2 separate regions of the Homo sapiens genome follow, and region 2 is linked to region 1. The links come from fine-mapping of genetic effects on gene expression. Tissue or cell type: esophagus mucosa. Region 1 holds a variant in brackets; the other region holds the start of a gene. All regions are shown on one strand. Distances are from middle to middle.

Region 1 (2,684 bases):
ACCGATATGTGATGTCACCCCTGGCGGCCCAGCTGTAAAATTCCTCTCTTTATACTGTCTCTCTTTATTTCTCAGTTGGCTGACACTTATGGAAAATAGAACCTACGTTGAAATATTGGGGGCGGGTTCCCCTGATAAACAAAGAACCGCATCCACTATTTTCCAGGTCGTGTTCTAGATGCAGAGAATTAGTAGTGAAACAAACAAAGTCCTGTCCCCATAGTTTACATTTTAGAGGAAGGAGACAGATAATTAACAAGTCTGAAAGTTTATCAGGTGGTGATAAGTCTGATGAAGAAAACAAGGCATGTTAAGATGATAGAGGAAGTGCATCAGTCAGGAGAAGCTAGATGAAACTGCAGTAACAAACAACCCCCAAATCTCAGGGGCTGATTTTTTTTGTTCATGCTCCATGTTAATTGTGGGGTGGGCAGGTGGGCTCTATTCTGCATCTTTCTCACTCTGTGATCCAGGCTCACTGAGTCCTCATCCTTTGGACTATCACCAGTCATTACAGCAGGCAGAAGGAGGAATGTGATGACTCATGTTGGAAGAGGGGAAACCAGGGATATTGATGTGCTGAGTAATCTCTGCTTGCTCCAGATCTGTTCTTATAGCTCTGCTCTGCTCCACTCTGTGCTCTTGAGCCTGAACTCCATGGATTGCATCATCAGGGCTCTCTGCCCTCTGATTTCCAGTTGTATTTGGAGGCATCATCAGGAGACTCGAGGGTGGGAAGAGAGCCAGGTGCTTGCTCTGTTGCTCTCTGCTTGGCCACAGTTTTGCAATGATTGTTTTCCTCAGGCCACAGCGCCATCAAGCACTCTCACTTCCATGGCTCTGGCTCTCAGAGGGGCTCTGGTAACACCAGTTTCTCCTCTTGCAGGACTAACCGTGGTATTGGCTTCCTAGTGTGGCTAGTTTTGAGGGGCCTTAAAATCTCTTCTTGGTTTCCTCCTTGAGTAGAATATTCATGGAAAGATCTCTCCAAAGATCATTGCTGAATGTTCTAGCCACTTCTTGCTGGGACCCTCAAATATAATAGGTCAAAGGATTTGTGTTACAGAGGCCCCCTCTGAGGACATGACATTTGAAGCGAGGGAGAAAGTCAAGCAGGTGCTGGGTGTGGTGGGTCATGCCTGTCATCCCAGCACTTTGGGAGGCCAAGGCAGGTGG[A/G]TCACCTGAGGTCAGGAGTTTGAGACCAGCCTGGCCAACACGGTGAAACTCCATCCCTACTTGCTACCAAAAAATACAAAAATTGGCGGGGTGTGGTGGCATGTGCCTATAGTCCCAGCTACTGGAGAGACTGAGGTGGGAGAATTGCTCCTGTCACGTAGGAGCTGAAGCTGCCATCCACAGAGAATTGCTTGAACCCAGGAGGTGGAGGTTTCAGTGAGCCGAGATCACACCGTGGCACTCCAGTCTGGGCAACAGAATGAGACCCTGTCAAAAAAAAAAAAAAAGTCAGGCAGGTATTGCAGTGGGGAAGGAAGATGGTTCAGATTGAAAGGAGAACTTAGCAGTGGGAAAGTGGTTCTTGGCACATTCAAGGAACAGCAACAAGGCGGCCATGGCCAGAGCTGACTGAGCTGGTGGAGAAATGATAGGAATCAGGGCCAGAGAGGCAGAGGCCCAGATTACACCAATGTTTTTCTAGGTGATGAGAGAAACTTTAGATTTTATTCTGAGTGACACAGGAAAGCACTGGGAGCTTTTGAGCCATGAGGAACATCATCTGGCTTACAATTTTAAAGGATAGTTCTGATTTTAAGGGCAAGATGGAGCAAGGAGATTGATTAGGAGGCTGATGCAAAAGTCTCAGAGGGAGAAGCTGGTGGCTCAGACCAAGGTGAGAGCAATGGAGTTGGTGAGAGGTGATAAATTAGGGTCTTAGTTTTAAGGTGGAGATAACACAAACTTTGCTGACTGGTTGGATGTTGGCATGAGAGGAAAAGAGAACTCAAGAACTCCAGAGATTTGGCCTGAAATGGGAAGACTGAGGGAGATGCAGTTTTTCTGAGAGATTAGGGTGGAACTCAAGTGTTCAGTTTTGCTCATATTTAGTTAAAGATTCCCATTAGACCTTAAAGGGGAGATGTCGAGTTTAGATTTAGTTAAAGATTACCATTAGAACTTGAAGGGGAGATGTTGAGCTGTGGTTAGAGGAACAGGTCAGAGCTAGAAATACAAATTTGGTGGTTTCTGATTGCAAGTGGTGTTTAAAGCCAAGACATGTGTGAACTCCTCAAGGGAGTAAGAGCGACAGAAGAGGTGTGAGGATTGAGGACTGGGGCATTCCCACATGCGAAGGTGTGGAGGACGAGGCGCCAGCAAGGGAGGTAAGGAAGGGTGGATGGAGGAGGAGAATTAAGTGAAGAAAGTGTTTCAAGGAGGAGGGAGTAGTCACCTGCTGTGATGCTGCTAGGAGACCGAGAGGCTGCTCCTCCAAGAAGTCTGCTCTATCCCCTCAAAGTGGACCCTTGGCTTTTTCCTGCACTCCTGCACATCCACTGCTGATTCTCTGTATTGTAGTTATCTTCTGTCACATCCATCTCCCCCTCTGTACCCCAAGTTCCTTGAAGATTGTGTCTTGTTAATGACACTGAGCTCATGCCATGCATACAGTGGTATTAAGTTAACGAAATTCACAAAACACAGGACTCAACCAAGGGGATGTGCACCTC
Region 2 (2,684 bases), 620 kb before region 1:
GAAAAAAAGACAACAGCAGAGAATGATATCTCAGAGCACTGCTCCAGGCATAGCAGTTCCCTAGTAAATCTTGAAATCTCATCAAAATTGTGAGGGTTAGGCTGAGCAAGGTGGCTCATGCCTGTAATTCCAGCACTTTAGGAGGCCTAGGTGGGAGGACTGTTTTAGCTCAGGAGCTCAAGACCAGCCTGGGCAACATAGCAAGACCCACATCTCTCCCAAAAATAAACAAAAAAATTAGTTTGGCATAATGGCATGTGCCTGTAGTCCCAGCTACTCAGGGGGCTGAGGTGGGAGGATGGCTCACAAACCTATGTGAGGTAAGGCTGCAGTGAACCATGATGGTGTGACTGCACTCCAGCCTGGGCAACAAAGCGAGACCAAAAAAAAAAATGTTAGAATCAAGGGACAAAGTACATGTAAGAGGTTTAGAATAGCACTTGGTACAGGAACAGTGAGTGCTCAATAAATTATTATTAGGTCTCCTCCACCCAGGGTAGGACCTGGGTTTCTGTCCTGAATTGGGACTTCCAAGACAATCACTCCCACACTCAATGTAGTACAGAGCTCTGTGAGTGATCTCTGCCCATGTTCCCCAGGGACACTTCAGCCTGGGTGCTGGGCCTGTTTCCGGTTTTACTGGGGTGGGCTTAGAGCTGTACTTCTACGGGGTTCTCTTTCCTCTCAACGTTGGTTTCCCTCCCAACCCTCACCCCCAACCCCAGGAAGCTCAGTTTACAAGTGCGGTCGGTACCCTCATTTGGTGTTTTTATTGGCTTTTCTGATAGCCCCTGGACTAGACAATTACATTGAAATTCAGAAGCAGCATGCACTTTTTGGCATTGATGTCTTTAATTAAATTCAATAAGCACTTATTGAGCACCTAGAGTGTGTAAAATACTGTTCCTTTAAATACATTTAGTCCTGAACTGTTTTAGCTTCTTAGTTTGGATTAGTGCTGATCCATTTCTTAAAGGTTTTATGAAGCATAAATATCAAAATGGAAAAATATTTGCACAGTTCTTTGTAAATATAAACGTCTTGTGTGGATTATTGTTGCTACAGTATTAATATTAACTGCAGTAACAACACTGCTGCTTCCCAGACAGGCGGTAGAAAGCAGCTGTAGGCCAACAGGAGCCAGACTGAAGAGATCCAGGGAGGTGCCTCCAGCACGTACGGCCCACAAGGGGCGGAGTCTTAAGAAGCGTACCCAAGCCCCACCCCTTACAGCACCCCCTTCGTCAGGGCGGTGTAGGCGGTTACCATGGCGATGACGTCCAGAGGGCGGGGAGGGGCGGGGCTATGGAGAGGAGGAGGAAGATGGCGGGCGGGCTGCTCTGAAGAGACCTCGGCGGCGGCGGAGGAGGAGAGAAGCGCAGCGCCGCGCCGCGCCGGGGCCCATGTGGGGAGGAGTCGGAGTCGCTGTTGCCGCCGCCGCCTGTAGCTGCTGGACCCGAGTGGGAGTGAGGGGGAAACGGCAGGATGAAGTTCGCCGAGCACCTCTCCGCGCACATCACTCCCGAGTGGAGGAAGCAATACATCCAGTATGAGGTACCGGCACGGCTGGGGTGTGGGAGGACTCGGAGGGGCCACCATCTCGCCAGTCCTGACGTCCACCGCCGCCTTCCGCTTCAGCTGGCTCCCTGTGCCCGGGCAGACTTTGACCCGCTGCCGCGGGGAGCCACTGCGGCATCCCCGCCGCGGCCGGCCGCCTCCCGGCTCCGCTGTCCTTCCCCTCCCCCGCAGCCCCGCTGCCGCCGGGGTAACGGATATGCAGGCGGAGGGCCGGGAGGAAAGGCGCTGCCCGGGCCGGGGCCGGGGCCGGGGAACGGTGGGAGGGTGAGCTGCAGGTGGGGGAGTCACGGTGCGAGGGCAGCCCCGGGTCGCGGCTGTTCCGCGCTAATCCCCTTCTCCCCACTCGCCCTGACCTCTCGTCCCCACCCTGGGCGAGCGCCCCCTCGCCAAGGTTAGGTCTTGTTTCTCTCTCTACACCTCTCACCAAGGAATCCTTGTCTTCCAAGAGAAGCCCCTCCAGTGATTTCCTTCATTCCAAAGAGCCCTTCGGCTTTTTCCCACTTGCCCACTGTTGACAAAGGCTTTGTAACGGGGTTGAAACTTGACTTAAGTGTGTATCACATATGTAGTGGTTATAGTTTTTGTAAACACGTTGTAATCAACTATTCTGCTTTGATAATAAGACTCTTTTTACTGATTGCATGAAGTCTACAGAGTAATAACATCTTTGTTTTTGCCTCTTGTTTTGGAATGGAGGGAAGAGAAAGGAGAGAAGAGAATTATTAACATTTTTTTATTTTCTGCTAAGTTTTTGCTAGCTGGGGAGAAAATTAGTATATTGTAAACAATATACCTTACCTGTGTATTACAGAAATCATGCTCCCCATTCCCTCCCAATTTCTGTGCTAACACTGCTGGAAGGTATTTAATAGATAATAAGGAACCTTACATTAATAAAGGGAAAAATAAAGATAATGAACCCATTTATATGTTCAGAAGACAAGATACCTAAGAGGCTTTAAGCATTGCAATAGGTTATTCTCAGTAGCTGGCAATTCAGCTCCTGGATAGAGAAAGACAGACTTATCTGTAACCTCCAGGAATTCACATCTGTTTTGTGTGCAGGAACAAAGAATATAAAATCAATATGAACACACATAACTTAG

Which allele goes with the higher level. Alleles are on the strand shown, and positions count from the first base shown. SD is a standard deviation of normalised expression in the study named.
For the expression in esophagus mucosa of the gene that starts at base 1,306 in region 2, allele A in region 1 goes with a higher level than allele G (moderate effect, 0.49 SD a copy in GTEx).

Evidence for each region. PIP is the estimated chance that this variant, and not a neighbour inherited with it, causes the effect.
Region 2: it holds the start of XPR1, and the variant in region 1 is fine-mapped to the expression of XPR1 in esophagus mucosa (GTEx, PIP 0.96).

The regions. Positions count from the first base shown.
Region 1 is chr1:181,255,096-181,257,779 of GRCh38, forward strand. No RefSeq gene overlaps it. Among named protein-coding and RNA genes, the nearest start is that of LINC01699, 20 kb to the left of the region's middle. The variant A/G (reference allele first, on the strand shown) is at 1,177.
Region 2 is chr1:180,630,717-180,633,400 of GRCh38, forward strand. It overlaps XPR1 (xenotropic and polytropic retrovirus receptor 1), which reads left to right and starts at 1,306. Exons shown (of 15, transcript NM_004736.4): 1 at 1,306-1,554. The coding sequence starts at 1,486. RefSeq lists enhancers at 1,170-1,670, 1,671-2,171 and a silencer at 1,666-2,045.